Homo sapiens: one gene and its partners. Changing the gene in region 4 together with the main gene of any one other region gives a genetic interaction. Each region holds a gene or a part of one and is shown on either strand. Other genes may lie near its edges. The genes, in order: SSB, CARM1, SEC24B, DCAF7, SEC24A, SEC24C and PPP2R1A.

Region 1 (3,500 bases), on a different chromosome or scaffold from region 4:
ACAAAAGGCAAAACACTTTCCCCAAATATACAATAATGTTTACAAATTAGCAAAAAGATAAAACTAAAATGTCAATTACTAAAATAGTGTAACAGATGTGTCAATAGACTAGAAAACCTTAAAGAAGAATATATTTAAAGATTATATGAAAAGGCTCTTGCAAATCAGTGTGGAAAGAACAGATGGTTAAATAAAAAGAACTGGAAGAAATTGGTTAATCACTCAATTCTTATTTTTTTTTGAGACAGAGTCTTACTCTGTCGCTCAGGCTGGAGTGCAGTGGCATGAACTCAGCTTGCCGCAACCTCCGCTTCCCAGGTTCAAGTGATTCTCCTGCCTCAGCCTCCTGAGTAGCTGGGATTACAGGCATGTACCACCACGCCCAGCGAATTTTTGTTATTTTTAGTAGAGACAGGGTTTTACCATGTTGGCCTTGAACTCCTGATCTCAAGCGATCTGCCCACCTCGGCCTCCCAAAGTGCTGGGATTGCAGGCATGAGCCACCACACCTGCCCTTCTAATTTTTTAAAATTAAAAAATAAGGGACGGGGCCAGGCACGGTGCCGCACGCCTGTAATCCCTGCACTTTGGGAGGTCAAGAGATTGAGACCACCCTGGCCGACATGGTCAAACCCCGTCTCTACTAAAAATACAAAAATTAGCTGCACATAGTGGCACACACCTGTAGTCCCAGCTACTCAGGGGGCTGGGGCAGAAGAATCATTTGAAACCGGGAGGCAGAGGCTGCAGTGAGCCAAGATTGTGCCACTGCATTCCAGCCTGACAAAAGAGTGAGACTCCATCTCAAAAAAGGGGGTGGGGGGCCAGGAGTGGTGGTTCATGCCTAATCCCAGCACTTTAGGAGGCTGAGGTGGGTGCATTGCTTGAGTCTAGGAGTTCAAGACCAGCCTGGGCAACATGGCAAGACCCCAGCTCTCCAAAAAATAAATAAATAAATAAAATAAATAAGAAATAGAGGTACGTGCCTCTAGTCCCAGCTCAGGAAGCTGAAGTGGGAGGATTGCTTAAGCCTGGCAGGTTGAAGCTGCAGTGAGGCATAATTGTGCCACTGTACTCCAGCCTGGGCAACAAAGTAAGACGCTGCCTCAAAAAAAAAAAAAAAAAAAAAAGTTAAAGTAAATGTTTCTCAAATTTAAGCATAGAGGAACTCTCAATATACAAGCCAAGGAAAAACCCAAGTATGACTATTTGGAATGCCAGAAGTAACATAAAAAGTAAAAGACAAACAAATTTTGTCAAGAATTCTTACAAACAAAGAAGAAGGGTAAAAAGAGAACACCCTAATAGAAAACAGTTAAAGGATATTTTATTGGCCTCGCACGGTGGCCCAAGCCCATAATCCCAGCACTTTGGGAGGCTGAGGCGGGTCAATTTCTTGAGGCCAGAAGTTCGACAACAGACTGGCCAAAGTGGTGAAACCCTGACTCTACTAAAAATACAAAAATTAGCCACACATGGTGGTGCACGCCTGTAATCCCAACTACTCGGATGGCTGAGGCACAAGACTAGCTTGAACCCGGGAGGTGGAGGTTGCAGTGAGCTGAGATCACCGCCACTGTACTCCAGCCTGAGAGGAGAGCAATACTGTCTCTCTGTCTTAAAAAAAAAAAAGACACTATTTTTCAGGGATCGGGTCTTGCTTTGTTGCCCAGACTGGAATGCAGTGGTGCAACCACAGCTCACTGCAGCCTGAAACTCCCGGGCTCAATTGATCTTCCTCCTCAGCCTTCCAAGTAACTAGGACGACAAGCACATGCCACCATGCCCAGCTAATGATTTTTTTAAAAATTATAAAAAATAGGCCAAGCGCAATAGCTCATGCCTGTAATCCCAGCACTTTGGGTGGCCGAAGCAGGTGGATCACCCGAGGTCAGGAGTTCGAAACCAGCCTGACCAACATGGTGAAACCCCGTCTCCACTAAAAATACAAAAATTAGCCGGGCATGGTGGTGTGCACCTATAATCCTAGCTACTTGGGAAGCTGAGGAACCTGGAAGGTGGAGGTTGTGGTGAGCCAAGATCACGCCACTGCACTCTGCACTCCAGCCTGGGAGACAAGAGTGAGACTCCATCACAAAAAATAAATAAATAAATAATGTACTGTAAACTAAAAAAAAAATCCAACCTCATTTCATTGTTAATCAAAGAAATACAATTTAAAGCAACGAGACAGCATTTTTCACCTAACAAACTGGCTAAGATTAGAAAGAAAACCAAGACTACCTAGTATTGACTTGAACACAGAGAACTAGCCATTCAGGTAGATGTAAACTGACAATTATCAGTGTTTTTTAAATGTGCATAATCCTTGAGCCAGTATGGCTCCTTCTAAGAATTTTCCTTGAAGAAATCAATAAACATGTTTACTAAGATTTATATATAAGAATATTTGTCAAAGAATGATTACAGCTAAAAAAATTAGAAACATCCTTCATATTAAAGAGGAGAATGAAAAGATTATTGATTACAAAACTTTTCTCCACAAAAATGCATCCTATATTTAGCGGGGGAAAGGGAAGGAAATAAAATTGTTAGAAATGTACCACTCTGGTGGGGGATGTTTTAAAAGGTGAAGGCACTATGCTTGTGTGGAGGCAGGGGATATATGGAAAATCTCTGTACCTTCTGCTCAATTTTGCTGTAAACCTAGAACTGTTGTAAAATATAAGGTCCACTAAAAAAATTAGTATGAGCATGAAGCAAAGTGTCAAAAGCTTTTAACCTTGATAACCTCAGAAGAGTAGGATTTGAGAGTTAGCAGGTTGTGGGAGAGATACAACCTTTTCTATATACATCTTAGTATTGTTCTAAGTATTAAACACAGAATGAATAATTTCTAATTTTTCTCCTCATAGTCATAAAGAAATTAATACCAAAAAAAGGAACATGAGACATTTTAAATGCAGAGACGTGCAGCTTAAAAAAAAAAAAAAAGCAGTTCTGAGAATTGCAGAAAAACCCCACACCAAACAATATGATCTGAGGGGTTCTTAGCAAGAACCTAAGTTTAGAGATAATTTCCCATGCAACCATTATCGATATTGTAAAGATTTTAAGGTTTTTTTCTTTTTGAGTTTAATTGAACAAAGAACGATTTGCAAATCAGGCAGCCTCCCCAGCCAGAGTATGCTCACGAAGACTCTCAAGTTTCTTCCCCTCGCCCCCTGAAACAGTGTCTCGCTCTGTCATCCAGGCTGGAGTGCAGTGGTATGATCACAGCCACTGCAGCCTCTACCTTCTGGGCTCCATCAATCCTCCCACCTCAGCTTCCCAAGTAGCTAGGACTACAGGTAAACTGCTAACACACTCAGCTAATTTTTAAAATTTTTTTGTAGAGATGGGGCCTCATCATGTTGCCCAGGCTGGTCTCTAACTCCTGGACTCAAGCCATCCTCCTGCATCAGTACTGCAAAGGTACTACGGATCACTTGAGGTATTACGTTAACATAAACATAATACCTAAATTTGAAAAAATGCTA
Region 2 (3,500 bases), on a different chromosome or scaffold from region 4:
GCCTTGAACCCGGGAGGTGGAGGTTGCAGTGAGCTAAGATAGCACCACTGAACTCCAGCCTGGGCAACAGAGTGACACTCTTTCTCAAAAAAAAAAAAAAAAAAAAAAAAGGGGCCGGGCACGGTGGCTCACATCTGTAATCCCAGCACTTTGGGAGGCTGAGGCAGGTGGCTCACTTGAGGCCAGGAGTTCAAGACCAGCCTGGGCAACACAGTGAAAACCCATCTCTACAAAAAATTAGCCAGGCATGGCAGCTTCACACAGCTGGCCCCGAGGGCTCAGGCTGCCCAAGGTACATCTGGGTCACTGCACAGCTACCTTGAGACAAGGGGGAGGCCGGCAGTGGCTCATGGGCACGCAGCCTCTCCACCTCCAGCTGTCCTCGCACCAGCACCTGTGTCAACCACTGGACTCACTTCAGGTCTCTGGTAACCAAGCCTGCGGTGGGACCTTCAGACCATCTCCAGCCCTGGGCATTCCTGGACACCTCTCTGCTACCCTGGCTGCATCCACCTGGGGTTCTCCCACCCCTAGTCAGGAATCTTGTGTCCACCTGTGCCCCCAAGGTGGGTTGGTTAAGCCCTTCTGGTGGCTTCTCTGCGCCCTGAGCAAACTCTTCCTGCCTCTAGGACCTCGCCTCACTCCATCCACAGCTGGCCCAGTCACAGCTGGCCCAGGGCTGGCCACTGCCAGAAAGACTGGTCCCAGGTGGTCAGGATGGGCCTCTTGGAGGTGGGGACATAGAAGCCAAGCCCCAAAAGACCCGGAGGAGCCGGTGAGGGAGGGTCTGGGATCCAGGGTCTGCCCAGGCCAGAGTGTATTCTGGGCATACCTGCATGTGGGAATGTGGTTTTGAGGGCAGTGGAGCCTTCTTAAGGATGCACGGGCCACCCCTCAGCCAGGCTCTACGCCCCTGCCCACCAGGGCTCTGGGCGCTTTGGGCTGGTGTCACCGGAATGGAAGGAGGGCCACGTACCGTTGGGTGTGGCGAACTGGATGAGGACGCTGTTGCAGCCCAGGGTGATGATGAAGGACTGCTTGCCCACACGGCTGCACTCTGTCTCTCGGGACACTGAGCACTTAAAGACACACACATCTTCATCTACGAGAGAAGACAGGCTGGCGTGAGCGGTGCAGCCCTGTCAGCTGCCTTCTTTTGAGCCTGGGTCCCTGTCGCCCTCCTGCTGCCTCCCCTTGGTGCCCCCAGATTCTTCCAGAGTGCCACAAAACCACCCTGGCAGCATTGCCGGGTGCCCTGACTGCCCAGCCCACATGGAAGACAAGGGAGCGACTGATCAGACAGCAGGAACACAGCCTGTGTCCTCAGGATGATCAGGGCTGAGACGGGCATGGTGAAGGCTGAGGTGGGCAGACAGGGCCACAAGGCATGGTGCTGGCCCACAGGAACTCAGAGCTGGAGCTGCCTCTGCCCTGCTCGGCTGAGCCCTTCTGTTCTTGGATGGGCGCAGAGCAGTGACTGCATGTGGCCAGTGGAGTCAGACCGCTGGGTTCACACCCCATCCATGCCATTTGTTCACTGTGACACAGGCATGTCCCTCAGCCTCTCTGGAACTGGGGTTCTCACCATCAGATGGGGCTAATGGCGGGGCAGTGGTCTAGTGAATTAGGACACTGTCTCCCTGTACCCATCATGATAGCTGTTACCAGTCATTCATTCCACAAACCTGCAGCCACTCCACTCCAGCCAAATGGTGAAACTTAGCGATGCCAGGAACGGGCCAGCCCAATCAGGCACTGTGCCCCTGCCTGCCATACTGCAGTGGGACAGGTGCATCATCTGTAGTATTCTTGGCAAAAATGTTTGCCCTAGTCTCATCTTCAAGGGACAACAGAAAAGGACAAGTTGTGGGGCAGGCTACAGGACAACCAGCCTGGTCTCCTTGAACAGGCCAATGTCAGGAAAGACCAAAACGGTGGGAGCTATTCCAGAGTGCAGGAGACAAGAAAGAGGGGAGTGCCCAATGCAATGCAAAGTGGGACCCTGGGCTGGAGCCAAACGAAAAATGTTTTTAAAAGTTATACAGGACAACTGGGGAGGCTGGGCCCACACCTCTAATCCCAGCACTTTGGGAGGCCAAGGCAGGAGGATCACTTGAACCCAGGAGCTGGAGATCAGCCTGGGCAGCATAGCAAGACCCCATCTCTACAAAAAAATTTAAAAATTAGGCAGGCATGGTGGCATGCGCCTGTTGTCTTAGGGACTCAGGAGGCTGAGGCTACAGTGAGTCATGACTGTGCCACTGCATTCCAGCCTGGGTGACAGAGCAAGACCTTGTCTCAAAAAAATAAATAAAGGACAACTGGGGAGCTGGACAGAGTGGCTCACACCTGTGGTCCTAGCTACTTGGGAGGCTGAGGTGGGAGGATCGCTTGAGCCCAGGAGGTTGAGGCTGTAGTGAGGTATGATGGTGCCACTGCACTCTAGTCTAGGCAACAGACGTGAGATCCTATTAAAAAAAAAAAAAAAGACAACTAGGGAAATGTGAGTGTGGACTACATATTCCATAATTTTAAGTTATTTGGATGTGACAATGGTATTGTGGTTTTGTAGAGAAATGCATATTTTCTTAGAAAACATATGCGGAAGTATTTATGGCAAATTCCCATGATGTCAGTAGCTTGCTTTTGAATAGCCCATCATAACAACAACAACATGAGTGCAAATATGGCAAAGTGTTCTCAATCACCCTGAATAGCCAAAACAGTCTTGAAAAAGAATGAAGTTGGAGGATTCCCATGTCTCAATTTCAAATTTTACTACGAAGGTACAGTAATGAAAACAGTGTAGTGGTACTGGCAAAAGAAAGGAGACACAGATCAATGGAACAGAATCAGAGTCCAGAAATAAACCCTTATACTTATCCTCAATTGATTTTTGATAAGGATGCCAAGAACATTCAATGGGGAAAGAATAGTGTCTTCAACAAACACTGTTGAGAAAACTGGATAACCACAGAGAAAAGAATGAAGTTAAACCCCTACCTCACACCATATACAAACAAAACAGAACTCAAATGGAGCAATGACCTAAATATAAGAGCTAAAACAAGAAAACTCTTAGGAGAACTATTTGCAAATCATCTATTGTTAAGTATTTAGTGTCCAGAATATATAAAAAACTATTTTAGGGTCAGGCATGGTGGCTGACACCTGTAATCCCAGTACTTTGGGAGTCAGGCAGATTACTAGAACCCAGGAGTTTGAGACCAGCCTGGGCAACATGGTGAAATCCCGTCTCTACTAAAAATATAAAAATATTAGTCGGTGTAGTGGCATGCGCCTGTAGTCCCAATTACTTGGGAGGCTGAGGTGGGAGAATCACCTGAGCCCAGGAAGTTGACACTGCAGTGAGCAGAGATGGCAACGCTGCACTCTAGCCTGGGTGACAAGAATAAGAGCATGTCTCAAAAAAAAAAAAAAAAAGTCTGGGCACAGTGGCTCACGCCTGTAATCCCAGCACTTTGGGAGGGCAAGATGGG
Region 3 (4,231 bases), on a different chromosome or scaffold from region 4:
TCAAAAGACTCCTTATGAGTAGCAAGCGACACTCCTATCACTCAGGAAATTACAAGGGTTTTAGGAGCTGTTACAGGAACCCAGGACAAAGGCCAAACGTATTTCATATCACACCACAACACTGAAGTGAGTGATTTCTAGGTACCATTCCAGTTTTACAATTCTGTCTGTTTTATGCTCATATTTCTGACCTATTTCTTTTTCACCATGTCTGGAATTCCATAGAGATATATTAAAAGGCTAACTACTTTTGTAGGACTGAAAAATAAATGAGAAACCCAAATGACTGCTTACTACATGCTGATACCACGTAGCAAACTTTTTTTTTTTGAGATTAGCAAACAAAACAAAAAGAGATTTAATCTTGTTTCTCTACTTAAACTAATCCCTTCCACAAAAACAAAAATCCTTCTGGAGGATAAGGTGTGAGGATCACCTGAGCCCAGCAGACCAGCCTGGGCAACACAGGGAGACCTCGTACTCTACCTGACCCTAGTTCTTACACTTTACCATAACTTTCAAATTTCCTAGCATAACATTTAAGGCCTTTCTGCAACCTGACCCCTTTTAACCTGCTCCTTTCGGCTTCGATGCCTTGGCTTCCCATGCCACCCAGCACCCTCTGCACCTCTTGACTCCTTCCACTTTCCAAGCATGCCCTGCACTTTCATATTTCCAAACTTTAGTTCATGCTGTAACCTCTGCCTAGAGTCAACCTTTCCCTCCCACCCCAACCTGTCGAGTCCCTCAAGGCTAGCCAGAACCAATTCAAACATTACCAAATACAGGGCAAGTCAGGAGAGAGGCAGGGACTCTGTCTCATCTGCTACCCTAACCTTGAGTCCCCAACTGGTAAGCATGCAATAAATGTTGAAATGATTATTGCAACATTAAAGGAAAGTAGTGATTATAAACAAGAGAACTCAAGCATCATCTATATTTGGCATCAAAACATTGATTTGTTCTTACAGATTTTAACATCCTGATTACACTTGGCTGAGTACATATCCTGGCATTCTTGAGTGTTCACAAAATTTATAAGGCTGTAATAAACATTTGCCACTTTAAAAACTGTTCACTAAGATGATAATGCATATTCAGAAAATCAAGGAAAGACACAATCCTTGAATCACTGGTAAACATGAGTCTACAATGTTCTAAAAGACTTGGGCTCTTTTACTAAATTATCGTGTTCTAGTTCCTTCATAAAGCTATTTTAAAAACAAACAAAAACAAGAACTTATATTAAGGTTACAAGAACAAACACTGCTCACAAATAGTATTTTTACATTTGTTCAGAACAGGTTTATATCCAAAAGCGATTATAGTAAACAATGACTACTGAGAGTACAGCATGTAATACTGATAGGTAAGGCTGATCCAAAGAATATTAAGGCTAAAGTATCACTCAACTTCTGATCCTCAGGACAAACGATACACTTCATGTTTGAAAAGCATCAGTTGTAAAACTTAGATGTTGATTAAACTAATTCATAAAGTCCAGCAGATTTTCATTAGGAAATTAGATAAAACAGGTCAATCATCTGGAGAGTACTAATGCAGTTTGGTTCTCGTACCAACACAGGACAGAGGTATTTTTCTAAATTCAGTCAATTACTTTCCAAGGTTCTCATCTGACATACTAAGAAGTCTGTAAGGAGAATTCCTCCACCCTTGGCCCCTATCCGCGAACATTCCAAATCTCAGCATTAGGGAATGCATATCCATCATTTTGCAGCCTACTAAAAGCCCACGACCTTAATATGAAAGCGGCTTTCGTGCTGCATTTGGCTGCTGCCTGTATGAAGGCCCTGCCTCAAAGCAGGGCCAACTCTGGCACGTTTTTTCATCTCTGAAAGTGGAGCTAGGAAAAACACCCAGATCTAAAGATGTTCGTTTAAATCCGTTTACATCTGCTCCCTTTCAAACACTACAAGCAAACTCCAAAAGCTTGAGCAGCAGCCGCAGCGGCAATGACAGTTCTTGAGGCCGAACTGGGTCAGGGTTACAGTTACACTTATATAGCATATTTACACCCTTTTGTCTACAAACTTGAGTGCAAACTTAAGTTTCCTCAAGGCAGCGTGTTCGCTGGGCCTCGGGAACCGAAGCAATTTTCCTGAGACAGGAAGGGCACAATCCACCCTGCTGGGTGGCTGCACCAGCCTTCTCCGGACCACGCACTCAGCGGCCTCGGCTTCTGGCCAGCTCTCGCAGCCAAGGGGTCGCTCGGGGCAACTCGCCCGCGTCCAGGCTAGGTAACTGGGTTTTACTACGTGGGCTCCCAGCTTTTCAGTCGCCCCTACTCGCCCGAGGCCGTTTCGGGCCTGGGGTCGCATTACATAAACAGCCACGGCCCCAGCTTTCCCAGGCCGGCCCCCGCCCCCACGCCAGGGGCGTCCCACCCCCGCGCGCCCCGCGCCGTGCCTTCCCTGCCCCCTACCCGCACCCAACCCGGACCCCGCGGCCTCCGCACCGCGCCCGCTCCCGTCCCTCGGGCCGGGCCTGGCCCCGAACGCCCTTCCCGGCCCGGCCCGCCCCGCCCCGATGTGGCCGTGCAGGCCGCCCAGCCGGTGCTAGGCCCCGCGCTCCGCCCGGGCCGCCCGCCTCACCGTTCTGCTGGTGCGGCGCCGGGCCCGCACCCGGGCCCGCGGGCGCTGCGGCTCCTGAGACGGCCGCTCCGCCGAACTTGGGCGGGATCCGGGCGCTGGCGGCCGGGTGAGAGGACCCGGCGGGGGCCGACATGACGGCGCTGGTGGCGACGGCGGCTCCGCTTCAGGGAGGTGGGCGGAGGGAAGGGAAGGCGGGGCCGGAGAGGAGAGAGGAAGAGGAAGGAACGCGCCTGGCGTCACTGAGGGTGTCACCCGGGACCGCGGCTCAGGTACCCAAGCTTCTCCGCGAGTCCAGCGCTGCCACTCGGCGGCCGCCGCGGGCGCGGGGATCCTGGGTCGCTCCGCCTTGACCCACGCGCCCCACGCCCCGGGACTTACACCTGGGGTCGCTCCCCGCACGCGCGGGCCTCGCGCCGGTGCCGCCGCAGCGCCCCCTGCAGGCCGGAGCCGAGCTGGCCCAGGCCTGAGTCTGGCCCGGGGTTCCGTGGCCCCAGTGCCGGCCCCGCGGCTGCTGCTCCGGCCCGGCCAGGTGCCTTCGTGTTGAGGCGAAAGGACTGGGCCTCAGTGGGTGAAGGGACCGGGTGGCCCGCTTCCACCTAGGGCAGAGGCTGGATCGGCCGCGGCGAGGCTGGGCCCAGCATTACTGGGAGGGGAACTTGAGAGCCGCGGGTTGATGTTCGGAGCTCAGGCGACGACTGACCACCCACCCTTCCTCGAAGAGGAACAATGGCTTGGGTTTGGTTTTTAATTTTTGATTCCCCCACCTCCCCTTTCTTGATTCCAAAGGAAATATAGCATTCAAGCGCCATGTCTGTTGGGAATATATAATTCCTTGGCAAAGAAAGAGGAAACATTTCTCTGATAAACACAAGAATCTCAGTAAGAATTGCATTATTGAGAACTTTTCCCACTGATAAAGTAGGGAAGAGGAAGGGGAAAATAGGGTAAGGGAATGCTGGAAGACAAACTTTAAACTTTATCTCCTTTTTTTTTTTTTTTTTTGTCGATTGTTGGTGCATCCTGTTGGTGTTCCGAGAAGTTGTGGCTCAGCTTGCTTTGTCTACATTAGTGGAATCTTTAAGTCTTTCTGGTCTGTCTCAGCATACTCACTGGCAGGCCCTAGACTACATTACCCAAGTCATTTTGCCGTCTTGGAATCCTGAGTATGTCATCACTCTGTATTGGAGATGAGATTGCTCAGAAACACTGAATTCAGAATGGGATCTAGCAAGATGGTATTTCTGGAGCAATAAGTCATTTACTGAATGATTATGCAAAGCATAAATTGCATTGTAGTCCTAGAATAATACAAAGCTTCCCTTTAGTTGTTGCCGTAAATTAATAACTGGCATTTTAATGCACTAAATGAATTTTAGTAGTTAGATTTATATCTTTGACTTCTAGGAATTTCAACTACATTAGAGTTCATATACACAAAAGGGGCAAGCCCTTTTCCACAGCATTTCCAGCTTCTCCACAGAAACCTAGCCCCACATGAGCAAAAGATCACACTCTGTGCTTCATCAAAGAGATTACACAATTACAGATTCCAGCATCTCCCAGGAGTCCTTTGAATTTGGATTAAGGTCTATAATTACGTGGGTAAGGGAATAACTAGG
Region 4 (3,500 bases):
GGCTCACTGCAGCCTTGACCTCCTGGGCTCAAGTGATCCTTCCATCTCAGCCTCCTGAGTAGCTGGGACTACAGGTGCATGCTACCACTCCCAGCTAATTTGTTTTTTCTTTTGAGATGGAGTTTCACTCTGTCACCCAGGCTGGTGCAGTGGCACAATCTTGGCTCACCACACCTCCGCCTCCCAGGTTCAAGTGATTCTCCTGCCTCAGCCTCCCAAGTAGCTTGGATTACAGGCACGCACCACCACATCTGGCTAATTTTTATATTTTTAGTAGAGCCGGGGTTTCACCATGTTGGTCAGGCTGGTCTCAAACTCCTGACCTCGTGATCCGCCAGCCTCAGCCTCCCAAAGTGCTGGGATTACAGGCATGAGCCACTGCGCCCGGCCCTGATTTATTTTTTCTTTTTGAAACAGTCTTGCTCTGTTGCCTAGGCTGGAGTGCAGTGGCACAATCTCCGTTCACTGCAACTTCTGCCTCCCAGGTTCAAACTATTCTCCTGCCTCAGCCTCCCAAGTAGCTAGGATTACAGGCATGTGCCACCATGTCTGGCTAATTTTGTATTTTTAGTAGAGACAGGGTTTCTCCATGTTGGTCAGGCTGGTCTTGAACTCCCGACCTCAGGTGATCTGCCTGCATCCACCTCCCAAAGTGCAGGGATTACAGGCATGAGCCACTGCGCCTGGCCATATTCCACTTTAACACACACAGTCCTAGTGCAGAAGAAGAAGGTGAATGTGTGTATGTATATGTAATTTTTAAAATAAGCTCCCAAGTTATCCAAATCAACATAACACTCCAGTCACTGGAACATTTTCCCACAATTGTTAATAAAACAAAAATCGGCTAACACAATATTCTGAGAATATACACTAGCTTTTCCTGGTCTTTTCTATTTGCTTTCTCTTCAAGCCTCTTCCTGACTGATTACCAAGGACCAGTGTCTGCAGGTACCCAAGGTCCTGCCCTATTAAACTTTAAGATGAATTCTGGCACAGCACACCTTTGGCTCGTGGCTCAGAGGCTGACCAGAGAGCTCTGGCAGCGAGAGCTTTGGCAGCAAGTCCTTAGGCAAGCCAGGCTACCTACAGAGCATAGATTCACTCCTTGTTCAAGTGACAGCATCTCCAATAAGTCTATGTGAACAAGATTAGGACAAAAAGCAATAAAGTAGCATTTTTTTTTAAAGCATTATCACTTTTATCCAGTGGTCACAACAGGGAATGAGTCCTCTCACTGTCTAGAAAAAGGAGGAAGTTAAAACCAGAAGAGTTTTATGTCTTAAATTCCCCTGCTGACAGTCTTGACAGGGACTCGTGGAACACTGCGACATTCTAAATATCTATCAAAAGTACTGATGTGTACCAAAACACATTGTGCCTAAAACACATGAGTATGTGTTCAATACAGACCGGCTAAATTAATGAGCAAATGAATGATAATCCTGAAGGGCTACCGCAAATACCAAGATGAAAAATTAAATACCGGAGTCGAAATAATTATGCATCAAACATATAAAGTAATTGTATTAAAAACCTCAGAGGAATCAACACAGGCTGGTGAGGTGAGTACCCATCCCAGTGTTTCAAGTACAAGGTGGTCATGCCACCCAGACTCACTACTAGGATTCTCCAAAAAGCATCAGATATACCTACAGTCTCTCCTCAGAACCTCAAAAATACTCTCTGGATGCCAAATCTTAGAGCACAAGTAGTCAGTTAAATACTGGGGCAAACTAAATCCCAATCACACTGCCATCTTTATCAAAACCAACCCTGAAACATGCACTTAAGTGGAACAGAAGCCCAGGAACTGCTACCCAGCTTTTCCCAATAAAAGAGGGGAAATAACACCTGGGCCTAAAGACCAAACATATTGTCAAAACACAGGAGAAATGCCAAATTCTTATATCTGACTTACGTAGGTAAGCCAGGTAGAACAAGAGAAAATGGATTTAAACTAGAAAATTACACTACTTGGAGTCTGACTATAAGAATCTGCTAGACTACAAAATGAGTTGGGTTGAAAGAGATAAGGGAATTTTCCCCCCAGAGTCTTTAAAAGGCAGAGAATGAAATAATGACCTTTTCAGCTACCTTTCTGACCTCTTATTCCTGAATCCTTTCTGGAAAATACAAAAGTAAATTTACTAAACAGCCATATAATTCTCTTTGGTTATATTTCAATTACAGGTACAGTAATGATAATAATTAAATAACAGCTAACATCTCTATATGGCTTATTCCACACCGGGTGGCGTTCCTAAGTCCATTACATATATTAACTCATTTAATCTTTGAACAAGGTAGATGTTATTATTTATTGCCCTAATTTTACAGATGATGAAACTGAGACACAGAGGATAACTTGCCCAAGGCAATACAAAACTGGGAAGTGGCAGGACTTAGATAACCCAGGCTAATCACAGAGCTTTTTTCATGGGTGAACTTGGATGGAAGGGCAGAACCAATGTTTAGGAGCATGCAGACACAAAAAGATCACATTCTCGCCTCTGGCCAACAGATGCCAAGGCAGCTCCAGGGCCATGTTCTGAGAGTGCCATCTGGACCACTCAACCACTAGTGTGTCTGTCACCTATCTCCAAGTCTGTTAACTTCAGGGGTGGAGCCCAGGAATGTGCAGCTCCCTCAGGATTCTCACACACTAAAATTTAGAGAACCTGTTGCTCCAACACCAATCTTGCTGTATCCCTCAAGAGACCACAACAAAAGAAGGTAGAAACATAATAACCAATAATGAGGCTGTTTTTTGAGACAGGGTCTGGCTCTGTCGCCCAGGCTGGAGTGCAGTGGCGTGATCTTGGCTCACTATAACCTCTGCCTCCTGAGCTTAAAGCATCCTCCTACCTCAGCTTCCCAAGTAGCTGGTACTACAGGCAGATGCCACCATACCTGGCTAATTTTTTAATGTTTTTGTAGAGTCAGGGTTTCTCCATGTTGCCCAGGTTGGTATCAAACTCCCGGGCTCAAGCGATTCTCCCATCTCAGCCTCCCAAAGTGCTAAGATTACAGGTGTGAGCCACCACGCCCAGCCCTATAATGGGGCTTTTTATTCCAAGTGTAGTTGATAGAATCTGTTTCTTTACTCTGCAACAATTCCCAAATTTATTCACATGAAGGAACACCTGGAAGTCAATTTCTTAAACTGTTGATAGACTTAATTCTATGGATCAACTAGGTACAATTTTACGTTAGGAAAACATGATTATGCTAATGCAAATTTTTAAAAATTACAACCATGTTTTCTTAGTGAATGTCTCCACACTAAAAAGATGACCACTTCTAGCCTTTTTCATCAGTGTTAATTTGCTGTGTCCATTTTACTTTATCCTCTGCTGGTGACCACTATCCATGGCAAGCAGGAACCAATGGTCTAAAAATTCCAACCAATAATTCTAAAGTTCCTCCAAATTATGAAGTCGACCACCTCTTTGGCAGGGTTTCTCACAAACTTAGCCTGAGAATCACTTTAAGGCAGG
Region 5 (3,500 bases), on a different chromosome or scaffold from region 4:
GTGCTTCCCACCCAACCAGCAGCTTCAGAATCAGAGGAACCTGCTATAATAATGGTACAAATTGAGATCCCAGGTCCCACCTTTGTAAAATCCTATTTCATAGGATTCAAAAGGATCCCAGAATCTGCATTAGTAAAAAATCTCATGTGGCCGGGTGCGGTGGCTCACACCTGTAATCTCAGCACTTTGGCTCAGGCGGGCAGATCACCTGAGGTCAGGATTTTGAGACCAGCCTGGCCAAAAAGCTGTACGTTTCTTTAGGAAAGCCTGGGCCAGGCGTAGTGGTTCACACCTGTAATCCCAGCACTTTGGGAGGCCAAGGTGGGAGGATCACGAGGTCAGGAGTTCGAGACCAGCCTGGCCAAATGGTGAAACCCATCTCTACTAAAGACACAAAAAAATTAGACAAGCATGGTGACGCACACCTGTAATCCCAGCTACTTCAGGGGCTGAAGCAGGAGGATTGCTTGAACCATGGAGGTTAAGGCTGCAGTGAGCCAAGACTGCACCACTGTACTCTAGCCTGGGGGACAAAGTGAGACCATTTCTGAAAAACCAAAACAAAACAAAACAAAACTGCAGTTTCTAACTGGCTTTGCAAGTTGATTCAGTCAATAAAGGCACTAATTAATGGTGGGAGTCATTATTTGCCTTTAGCGTTAATACATGATAATCAGATTAAGATCCATTAGTTTAAGGTCTTGTAGTCTGCTATCAATTTTTGCAAAGGAAATATGTATACACAAAGACTTAGAAAAACCTCTCAGCTGGGCGCAGTGGCTCACGCCTGTAATCCCAGCACTTTGGGAGGCCAAGGCAGGCAGATCACGAGGTCAGGAAATTGAGACCACCCTGTCCAACATGGTGAAACCCCGTCTCTACTAAATATACAAAAATTAGCTGAGCATGGTGGTGCACGCCTGTAGTCCCAGCTACTCGGGAGGCTGAGGCAGGAGAATCACTTGAACCCGGGAGGCAGAGGCTGCAGTGAGCCAAGATCTGCACCACTGCACTCCAGCCTGGGTGACAGCGTGAGACTCCGTCTCAAAAAATATATATATATATTTTTTTTTTTTGAAAAAGGCTACTGTTAGGTCTTTTGTTTTTTATTAATTTATTTATTTTTGTGACAGGTTCTCACTCTGTTGCCCAGGCTAGAGGGTAGTGGCATGATCATGGCTCATTGCAGCCTTAACCTCCTGGACACAGGTGATCCTCCTACCTCAGCCTCCTGAGTAGCTGGGACCACAGGCTGGCACCACTACACTGGACTAATTTTTCTTACTTTTTTATAGATATGGGGTCTTCCTATGTTGCCTACCCTGGTCTGAACTCCTAGGCTCAAGCAGCCCTCCTGCCTTGGCCTCCCAAAGTGCTGGGATTACAGGTGTGAGCCACTGCACCCGGCCTATTTATTTATTTTTGAGACAAGATACTGCCATGTCACCCAGGTTGTAGTGCAGTTGTGCAATTGTAGCTCACTGCAGTCTTGACCTCCTGGGGTCAAGTGATCTTCCTGTCTCAGCCTCCCCAGTAGCTGGGACTACTGGGCCCGCACCATGCCTATTTTTTAAAAATTCTTTGTAGAGACAGGTTCTCACTATGTTGCCGAGGGTGGTCTTGAATTCTTGGGCTAAAACAATCCTAGCACCTCGGCCTCCCAAAGTGCTGACATTACAGGTGTGAGCCACCACACCTGGTGAGGTCTTTTGACTATAATATATAAAATATCTGTGCTAGATGTTGTGGCTCATGCCTGTAATCCTAGCTCTTTGGGAGGCCAAGGCAGGAGGATTACTTGAGTCCAGGAGTTCAAGACCATCCTGGGCAACAGAGTGCAGCTCTGTTTTCTAAAAAAAACTGTTTAGTTAGCCAGGTTTCAGGGCATGTGCCTGTAGTCCTAGCTTCACAGGAGGCTGACGTGGGAGGATCACTTCAGCCAGGAGGTTCGAGGCTGCAGTGAGCCATGATCAAGTGACTACACTTCAACTTGGGTGACAGAGCAAGACCCAGGCTCTTTAAAAAACAAACAAACAAACGAAACTGGAACGGGTATGGTGGCTCACACCTGTAATGCCAGCACTTTGGGAGGCTGAGGCAGGAGGATCATGAGGTCAGCAGATAGAGGCCATCCTGGCCAACATGGTGAAACCCCGTCTCCACTAAAAATACAAAAATTAGGCCGAGCACAGTGGCTCATAACTGTAATCCCAGCACTTTGGGAGGCAGAGGCGGGCAGATCACGAGGTCAGGAGATTGAGACCATCCTAGCTAATATGGTGAAACGCTGTCTCTACTAAAAAAAAAAAAAAAATACAAAAAATTAGCCGGGTGTGGTGGCGGGCACCTATTGTCCCAGCTACTCGGGAGGCTGAGGCAAGAGAATGGCATGAACCCAGGAGGCGGAGCTTGCAGCGAGCCAAGATCGCACCACTGCACTCCAGCATGGGTGACAGAGTGAGACTCCGTCTCAAAAAAACAAAAACAAAAACAAAACAAAACAAACAAACAAAATACAAAATCAGCCAGGCATGGTGGCATGTGCTACAGGTGCCTGTAACCCCAGCTACTCGGGAAGCTGAGGCAGGAGAATCGCTTGAACCTGGGAGGTGGAGGTTGCAGTGAGCTGAGATCGCACCACTGCACTCCAGCCTGGCAACACAGCAAGACTCCGTCTCAAAAACAAAAAACACCAAACTGGCCAGGCACAGTGGCTCACGCCTGTAATCCCGGCACTTTAGTAGGCCGAGGTGGGCGGATCACCTGAGCTCGGGAGTTCGAGACCAGCCTGGGCAACGTGGCGAAACCCCGTCTCTACTAAATATACAAAAATTAGCTAGACATAGTGGCGCATGCCTGTAGTCCCAGTTGCTCAGGAGGCTGAGGCAGAATTGCTTGAACCCAGGAGATGGAGGTTGCAGTGAGCCAAGATCACGCCACTGCACTCCAGCCTGGGCAATAGAGAAAGACTATCTCAAAAACAAAAAACAAAAGCAAACTGAAGATCTAATTATACTGTAATATGTAATTTAAGCAAACTTCATTAAATACTTAAGACTTTTCGGCCAGGCGCGGTGGCTCACGCCTGTAATCCCAGCACTTTGGGAGGCCGACGCGGGCGGATCACCTGAGGTCAGGAGTTTGAGACCAGCCTGACCAATGTGATGAAACCCTGTCTCTACTAAAAATACAAAAATTAGCCGGGTGTGGTGGCATGCACCTGTAATCCCAGTTGCTCAGGAGGCTGAGGCAGGAGAATTGCTTGAATCTGGGAGGCAGAGGTTGCAATGAGCCATTGCACTCTAGCCTGGGCAACAAAAGTGAAACTCCATCAAAAAAAAAAAAAAAAAGAGTTTTCAACAGAATATGCAAGCATCAACTACTGCTTTGGAATAGTTAAGCAAAACTAGATCCCAGCATTGAAACGTTTTCTCACCTTCTTGAAAAATATCCTGTTCTCCAACTTGATACCATATCCCTACTCTCTGTATTATTAGCAG
Region 6 (3,500 bases), on a different chromosome or scaffold from region 4:
GGAGTCTTACTCTGTCGCTCTGGCTGGAGTGCAGTGGCGCAATCTCGGCTCACCACAACCTCCACCTCCCGGGTTCAAGGGATTCTTAGCTTCCTGAGTAGCTGGGATTACAGGCGCCCGCCACCACACCCGACTAATTTTTGTATTTTTCGTAGAGATGGGGTTTTGCCATGTTGGCCAGGCTGGTCTTGAACTCCTGACCTCAGGTGATCTGCCTGCCTCAGCCTCCCAAAGTGCTAGGATTACAGGTGTGAGGCACCGTGCCTGGCCCCAACACTATTTCTATTAATGAGTCAGCCACTGCATATATAAGCAGATATTCCCAGCCCTGCTGCCACCTGCTGCCCCAAATCCCACACCATACCTGAAAGGAAGCATATTTGTAGACAGAGCCACCAGTGAGCTGGGGCACAACAGAGAGTGTGGCCACATCCACATACTGGTTAGGGAAGAGAAAGAGATCTACACAGCAGCCTTGGGCCACACACTCTTTGGCCAGGGTCTGATAGGCACCTGTCTGAGGCTGGAACAGAGTCTAGGGGGAAAGAAAATGGGGAGAAGAAAATGTTCAAATATCTCAGCTCCGCCCTATTTGAAAACTGTATATCTAGCATGGGATATTCAAATTCATGGAAGACTTCAGATCTACTTCCAAGGATTTTCCAATAGTAAAAAATTTTCTTTTATATTATTTTTATTTTTTTGAGACAGGGTCTCACTCTGTCACCCAGGCTGGCATAGAGTGGCATGATCTCAGCTCACTGCAACCTCTGCCTCCCAGGTTCAAGCGATTCTCCTGCCTCAGACTCCCAAGTAGCTGGGATTACAGGTGTGTGCCACCACACCTGGCTAATTTTTGTATTTTTAGTAGAGACGGGGTTTTGCCATGTTAGTCAGGCTGGTCTCAAACTTCTGGCCTCAAAAATCTGCCCGCCTTGGCCTCCCAAAGCGCTCGGATTACAGGCATGAGCCATCATGCCCGGCCAAAAGTTCTTCTTTAAAAAATAAATAAATACAAGAGTCTACCAACAGCTTTGGCATCAGATGGAGTAGAGAAGTATGGCAGCAGTGGAGGTTGGCAGTCACAGATATGGTATTTGAAAGGGTGGAGTGTCTGGTCCTAGCCACCATCAAGAAAGTAGAGTCCCCACTTCCTCTGTAATGAAAAATCCTTCCCCTCCCCCATTTTCCAGTCCCACACCTTCTCCTTGTCTGTATTGATCAGCTTCCTGTCATCTCTGTTCTTCAGTTTCCCTGGGGCCTCTGCAATGGGCAGGGATGTATGGAATAGAAAGAGCTTCCCTGCACACTCAGCAGCCTAGGAAAAAAGAGAGGACTACTTGTTTATTCTTTATTCATCCATCTCTTCCCTTGTCATTTATTAAGCACCAGCTATGTCAGACAGTCTAACACACTGGACAGTCACCCACTACTGAAGAAAGAGAGGTTGTATCCCAGGGGATAAGATGGTCAGAGGAAAATGGAGTTAGAGGAGGTTGCCCGATACTCCAGCCTTACCTTCAGAGCCTCCATTCCAGCCTGGATAACTGGTACAAATACTGTCTCTGTTTCCCTTGTGTCTGCAAACATTTCTGGAATCTGATCCAATAAGCTAAAGAGATAGGTGACGGAAAACAACCAAAATTGCTATACAGATTCCAGATACCTCAGTTCTCGATTCCCTGAAGAGTCATCAAGCCTCTAGAATCTGACAACTCCTGGGCCACAACCCCTTTCCATCTACTGTCCAATACCTCTGTTCAACTCCATGACCTTCTATGGTGGTACCCATGCCACCCCCAACCTTTACCTCCACAATCTGGCTCTTACCTGGTGATAACTGCCCGAGACTCATTGACGTTGACCAGGAAGCCATCCAGCAGTGGCACAAACATGTCAGCCACATCAGACACAACCATCATCTGTGGCTGGGCCAATGAGCTCTTCACATTATAGAAGTGGAGCACCTTATTGTAGGTGACAAAGCCAACGCGGATTGCTGACTCTTCTGCCCCACCCTCCCTGTAGAAGGTGACATTGTTACCTAGACTTGCCACCTTTTCCACCACCCACAACTTCATGACACCAAGCTACATTTCTTCAGTCAACCCAGACACCCTATCATTAACCTCAGGAAACACCTCAGTTCTGTAACTCTCACCTAGGTAGAAAGTCTAACAGTGACTTGAGCTCCTCACAGAGGAGCCTAACAAGACCAGTCCTGATGGCATTGTAGGAGACGTCAATCATGAAGATAAAGGCAGGAGGGCTGGGGAACTTATTGTTCTGCAGAGGAAGAAAATGTTGGGGAGAGGGGGAATGGTAAGCAGGCCAGTTGACTATAGAGAAGTCAGCATCAAAAAGGGACAAAAAAGGGGTGAGGGAAATGATAACAGCCATTCTCAGCTGTCTCATTATCCTCCACTCACTGCTCCTCCCATGCTACCTTCCCTCACCTTGCAGTAATCTACAGTGGCCAAGAATTCATAAGAGCCCAGGGATAGCTCAGGGCGGTCATAAGCATCCACACGTTTGCCGGTATGATCCAGGTGCTGAAAATACTGGGGGGGAACTGTGGGAAGCATGGCAGTGTGTTACTCGAAGATCCAGTTTCAATCTTAGTATTCTGGCCCTAGCTGAGCTCACACCACTATCCCTCATTCCCATGTGCCCTACTTCCCCAGCTCCTGAAAGATGGACCCTCATCTCTCTAACTATTTAATAGAGAACAAGGAAGATACAATCAAGACCTTCCCCCAAATCCCAGCTTCCATGAACATACCATCATTGATACAGCTGCAAAAACAGCACTGGAAACGCCTCCCTCCTTCAATGAACTGCATGAAGGGACACATGTATGCTTTGCAGCGGTTGCAGCGCAAAGGGCCAGATTCCCCATGGTCCACAACATACGGTGAAGCCTAAGGCGCAAAGGGGAAGGGATCAGACATAAAGGAAAACCACAGTAGGTTCAGCCAGGAGATGAGGAAGAACAACCGGAGGAAGAAGGCGCATGGCGCAGATATTCTGTCTGCAGAGGGAGTAGGGAGCACAATGATGAAAGGGAGTAAAGACAAATCACAGGAAAATGTCCCTATGAGTAAAAATTATATAGTTCCCTCTTCCTACATCCCACCCCCAGAGCTGCATTTCTCACTGAAAGAGAAGAGGAAATGCAAAACCGGCCATATCAGACTAGGGGCTGCCATGGGCATATGAGGGAGAAAGCCAAGATTATCTAGGATTCTCCTTTCTGGCCCCATCTCTAATGCCCTTCACTCTTGCTCTAAGAATCTTGATTCCAGCTCCTTCCCTAACCAAATATCTGTAACACCTCCTCCCGTATCCCTGGGATTCTGTGCCAGTTACTGATGCCCCAGGCAAATGTCACCCTACACATAAGAGACCAGTGCCCAACTATCCCCAATGGGACCCAGATAGAAATAGACAAACACACAGAGAAAGACGGAGAGATAAGCAGAATATAAACTGAGCCTTTG
Region 7 (3,500 bases), on a different chromosome or scaffold from region 4:
GATTCAGGAGAGATTTTCCTCCTTCATAAAAGGGAGGAGGGAAAGAACCTCTGTGTCCTAAGCTGGCCTCTGCTAAACTGCACTAAAAAGTGCAGTTCCACTAGGACAGCAGATGCTGCTGGAATCTTATAACCAAAACAGGCCAGTCAAAAAAACCGCATTTCTGTGATATCTTTGAGCTGACCCAATTCTGTGATAGCTTTGAGCTGCTGAACTTGCTATATGAGAAATAAAGAGAACTCTTACTTGTTTAAACAACTCTAGGTTGGGGTCTCCGTCACATTCCTGATAGAAAATCTATTAATATCATTTCAGAAACCTTGACTGGCCATTGATCATGTCATATCCTGAGAATTCCCTGTGCACTGACTATCTCCCAAGTGTGTCCCCACCAAGCACCTGCTACAGTTGTGATACTGTGAGATACAGATTTGGGCTTCATCCCCATTTCCTTGCATACAACTCCTCAAATCTTTGGAATCTCCAAGGCGCTTTTTGTATGCTAATGTTGACTGATACCTTCAGGATGGGGTCCATGGTCACTGGAAAGATAGTCATGGAAAACAGAGAGGCATGATTAGAGGGTTGGGATTTTCAGTCCCACCCCACAACCTCCAGGGATCGGAGAGGGGCTGAAGGTCAAGGTGATCACCAGGTTTAATCAATCCTGCCTACCTAACAATGCCTTTATAAAAACCCAAAAGGACAGGGCCTGGGAACTTCAACATAGCCGAACACACAGAGGTTCCTGGAGGGTGGTGCACCCAAGAAGGGCATGGAAGCTCCACACCCCTTCCCCCATAGCTCACCCTATGCCTCTCTTCATCTGTATTCTTTATACTATCCTTTATAATGAACTGATAAACTTACATGTTTCCCTGAGTTCTGAGAGCTGCTCTAGCATATTAATCAAACCCAAAGGCAGGGTGGTCATGGGAACTCCAACTTGAAGCAGGTAGATCAGAAGTTCTGACGACCCAGAATGGCAACTGAAGGCGAGGGCCAAGGGGCAGTTTTGAGGCCTGAGCCCTCAACCTGTTGGATCCAACACTGTCTCCAGGTCGTGTCTGAACTGAATTGGAGGACATCCAGTTGGCGTGTGCTGCAGAACTGAATGCTTGCTTAGTGGTGGTGAAGAATCCCTCCCCACCCCAACACACATTTAGTCACGGAAGTCTTCTTCTGTGTTGTTGATTGTTGTGTTAAGTGAGAGAATAGGAATTGGGATTTTCCAAAGAGTCCACCCATATGGTTCCATGACAGCACTTACCACCCTAGACTGGGACTCTCTGTGTCCCAGCAGGCCTCGGCACAGAGCCTGCTCTGTGGTGAGTTAATAAATAAAATCCGCCTTCCCACTATATGCACCTGTGGAAAGGGGACCCACTTTTGAAGATCCACCCTGCATTCAACCCATGGAGCCTTCCATAATATGAATGTATATGGTATAATCCCACATGTAGTATGTTTTCCCTGCACATTCAGAATAAAAGCTAAGGCCTTACTCTGGCCTACAAGGCCCAACACAATCTGACCCTAGTCTACTGATCCATTCTCACTGGGCCTGGCTTGTCACAACTGCTTCCTTGATAGTAACCAAAAAAACAAACAGCCCAGTGTATTCCCAACCCAGGCTTTAGCACTTGCTGACTTGGTCCCACACGGTTCCCCAGATGCCCCATTTCCTCAGGTCTGCTCAATCCCCACCATATGACTACCGCAGAACAATGAGCAAGCCAATTTCACTGCATCTTCACAACCAGGCACACGCTGATTCTTCATCATTATCCCCATTTTGCAGATGAGGAATCTGGGTCCAAAGAGGGGAAAGTACTGCTCCAGGGGCACACAGAGAGCACAACTGGCAGAGCGGGGGTTCAAACTTCAGTCACCCTCAACTCTTCCCTCTACATTACCCACCAGCAAATCCCATCAGCCCCCCTCAACATGTCCTGACTGTAACCATACTTCCCCCCTGCATGCTAACACTGGTCCTGGGTGCTTTGTAATGGCACCTCAACAGGGCCCAACCCCTATGACAGCCAGAGGAAGGATCCTTTAAAATTATACCAGAACCCATAATTACTACTGAAAGCCTTGCAATTCCTCCTCCTCCCTCCCATCTTCAAGGCCTTCACCTTGGCCCACAGGCCTCACTTGATCTAGTCCTGGTCTAGTCCTCACCTCCCACCACTTTGCCATTCTCTCTGCCTCAGTCACACTGGCCTTTTTGCTGTGCTTTGAACGCATCAAGCATCCTCCCACTCCTGGCCTTTGTACCAACTATTCCCTCTGCCCAGACTGCTCTTCCACGACCTGTTCATTTCATTCAAATCCTTGTTCAACATCACTTCCTCAGAGCAGCTTTCTCTAACCTCCCTATCTAACAAAGCAGCCCCAGGTGCTTGCTCTATTCCCTGTACCTGTCTTATTTTGTTCTTTTTTTTTTTTTTTTTTTTTTTTGGAGACAGGGTCTTGCTGTCGCCCAGGCTCTCACCGCAGCCTCGATCTCCCTGGTTCAAGCAATCCTCCGACCTCAGTCTCCTGAGCAGCTGGGACCAAGGCCTGTGTCATCACACCAGCTAATTTTTTTTTTTTTTTTGGTAGAGACAGGGTCTCACTTTGTTGCCCAGGCTGGTCTTAAACTCCTGGGCTCAAGCGATCCTTTCACCTTGGCCTTCCAAAGTGCTAGAATTGGCCAGGGGTGGTGGCTCATGCCTGTAATCCCAGCACTTTGGGAGGCAGAGGCGGGCAGGGAGTTTGAGACCAGCCTGGCCAACATGGTGAAACCCACTCTCTACTAAAAATACAAAAATTAGCTGGATGTGGTGGTGGGCGCCTCTAATCCTAGCCACTCAGGAGGCTGAGGCAGGAGAATCACTTGAACCCGGGAGGCGGAGGTTGCAATGAGCAGAGACGGCCTGGACGACAGAGTGAGACTCTGTCTCAAAAAAAATAAAATAAAATAAAACCAAAGTGTTACAATTAGGCTTGAGCCACCACGTCCAGCAATTTTTCTTCTTAGCAATTACTGCCACTGACATCCCACTACAGATCTACTATCTGTCTCCCAAACCAGAATGTAAACCCCACAAGGGCAGCTTTGCTGTTTTGTTCCCTACTGTATGTCTAGTATCTAAAACAGAGTCTGGCACACAGGAGGTGCTGATAAATATTTGCTGAACAAATAAATCAAGACTACAGGATTTCATGTCCCATGTTCCTTCTAGTATCCTGAACTGTCTCAGACACAATTAAAATGTCTGGCATATGAATATAATCAGCAACCGTGTGTCCCACCCCAGATTCTATTCCACCCTTAGGTCCTACTTCCTTTCCTGGCTCCTTCATTTCTCAGCTGCACAGCTTTGGCCATGTTATTTATGGTGCTTCAGTTTCCTCATCTGGAAAATGTGGACAAGGACAGGACCTACTTCAAAGAGTGATTGTGAGAATTCAGTAAGATCGTCAGTGATATTCCTCTGTACTGTACCTAACAT

Evidence for each region.
Region 1: changes in DCAF7 (region 4) and SSB together harm fitness more than expected from each alone (negative genetic interaction), as found in Homo sapiens cells (one large-scale study listed by BioGRID).
Region 2: changes in DCAF7 (region 4) and CARM1 together harm fitness less than expected from each alone (positive genetic interaction), as found in Homo sapiens cells (one large-scale study listed by BioGRID).
Region 3: changes in DCAF7 (region 4) and SEC24B together harm fitness more than expected from each alone (negative genetic interaction), as found in Homo sapiens cells (one large-scale study listed by BioGRID).
Region 5: changes in DCAF7 (region 4) and SEC24A together harm fitness more than expected from each alone (negative genetic interaction), as found in Homo sapiens cells (one large-scale study listed by BioGRID).
Region 6: changes in DCAF7 (region 4) and SEC24C together harm fitness less than expected from each alone (positive genetic interaction), as found in Homo sapiens cells (one large-scale study listed by BioGRID).
Region 7: changes in DCAF7 (region 4) and PPP2R1A together harm fitness more than expected from each alone (negative genetic interaction), as found in Homo sapiens cells (one large-scale study listed by BioGRID).

The regions. Positions count from the first base shown.
Region 1 is NC_000002.12:169,801,871-169,805,370, reverse strand, and holds part of SSB (lupus La protein), read right to left. Parts: intron 1-3,500. UniProt on the Homo sapiens protein: Binds to the 3' poly(U) terminus of nascent RNA polymerase III transcripts, protecting them from exonuclease digestion and facilitating their folding and maturation.
Region 2 is NC_000019.10:10,902,553-10,906,052, reverse strand, and holds part of CARM1 (histone-arginine methyltransferase CARM1), read right to left. Parts: intron 1,103-3,500; coding exon 977-1,102; intron 1-976. UniProt on the Homo sapiens protein: Methylates (mono- and asymmetric dimethylation) the guanidino nitrogens of arginyl residues in several proteins involved in DNA packaging, transcription regulation, pre-mRNA splicing, and mRNA stability.
Region 3 is NC_000004.12:109,432,384-109,436,614, reverse strand, and holds the start of SEC24B (protein transport protein Sec24B), read right to left. Parts: upstream 2,801-4,231; 5' UTR 2,746-2,800; coding exon 2,613-2,745; intron 1-2,612. UniProt on the Homo sapiens protein: Component of the coat protein complex II (COPII) which promotes the formation of transport vesicles from the endoplasmic reticulum (ER).
Region 4 is NC_000017.11:63,553,477-63,556,976, reverse strand, and holds part of DCAF7 (DDB1- and CUL4-associated factor 7), read right to left. Parts: intron 1-3,500. UniProt on the Homo sapiens protein: Involved in craniofacial development. Acts upstream of the EDN1 pathway and is required for formation of the upper jaw equivalent, the palatoquadrate. The activity required for EDN1 pathway function differs between the first and second arches.
Region 5 is NC_000005.10:134,651,785-134,655,284, reverse strand, and holds part of SEC24A (protein transport protein Sec24A), read right to left. Parts: intron 1-3,500. UniProt on the Homo sapiens protein: Component of the coat protein complex II (COPII) which promotes the formation of transport vesicles from the endoplasmic reticulum (ER).
Region 6 is NC_000010.11:73,764,872-73,768,371, reverse strand, and holds part of SEC24C (protein transport protein Sec24C), read right to left. Parts: intron 2,922-3,500; coding exon 2,783-2,921; intron 2,573-2,782; coding exon 2,457-2,572; intron 2,287-2,456; coding exon 2,162-2,286; intron 2,023-2,161; coding exon 1,831-2,022; intron 1,613-1,830; coding exon 1,519-1,612; intron 1,319-1,518; coding exon 1,202-1,318; intron 536-1,201; coding exon 365-535; intron 1-364. UniProt on the Homo sapiens protein: Component of the coat protein complex II (COPII) which promotes the formation of transport vesicles from the endoplasmic reticulum (ER).
Region 7 is NC_000019.10:52,193,052-52,196,551, reverse strand, and holds part of PPP2R1A (serine/threonine-protein phosphatase 2A 65 kDa regulatory subunit A alpha isoform), read right to left. Parts: intron 1-3,500. UniProt on the Homo sapiens protein: The PR65 subunit of protein phosphatase 2A serves as a scaffolding molecule to coordinate the assembly of the catalytic subunit and a variable regulatory B subunit.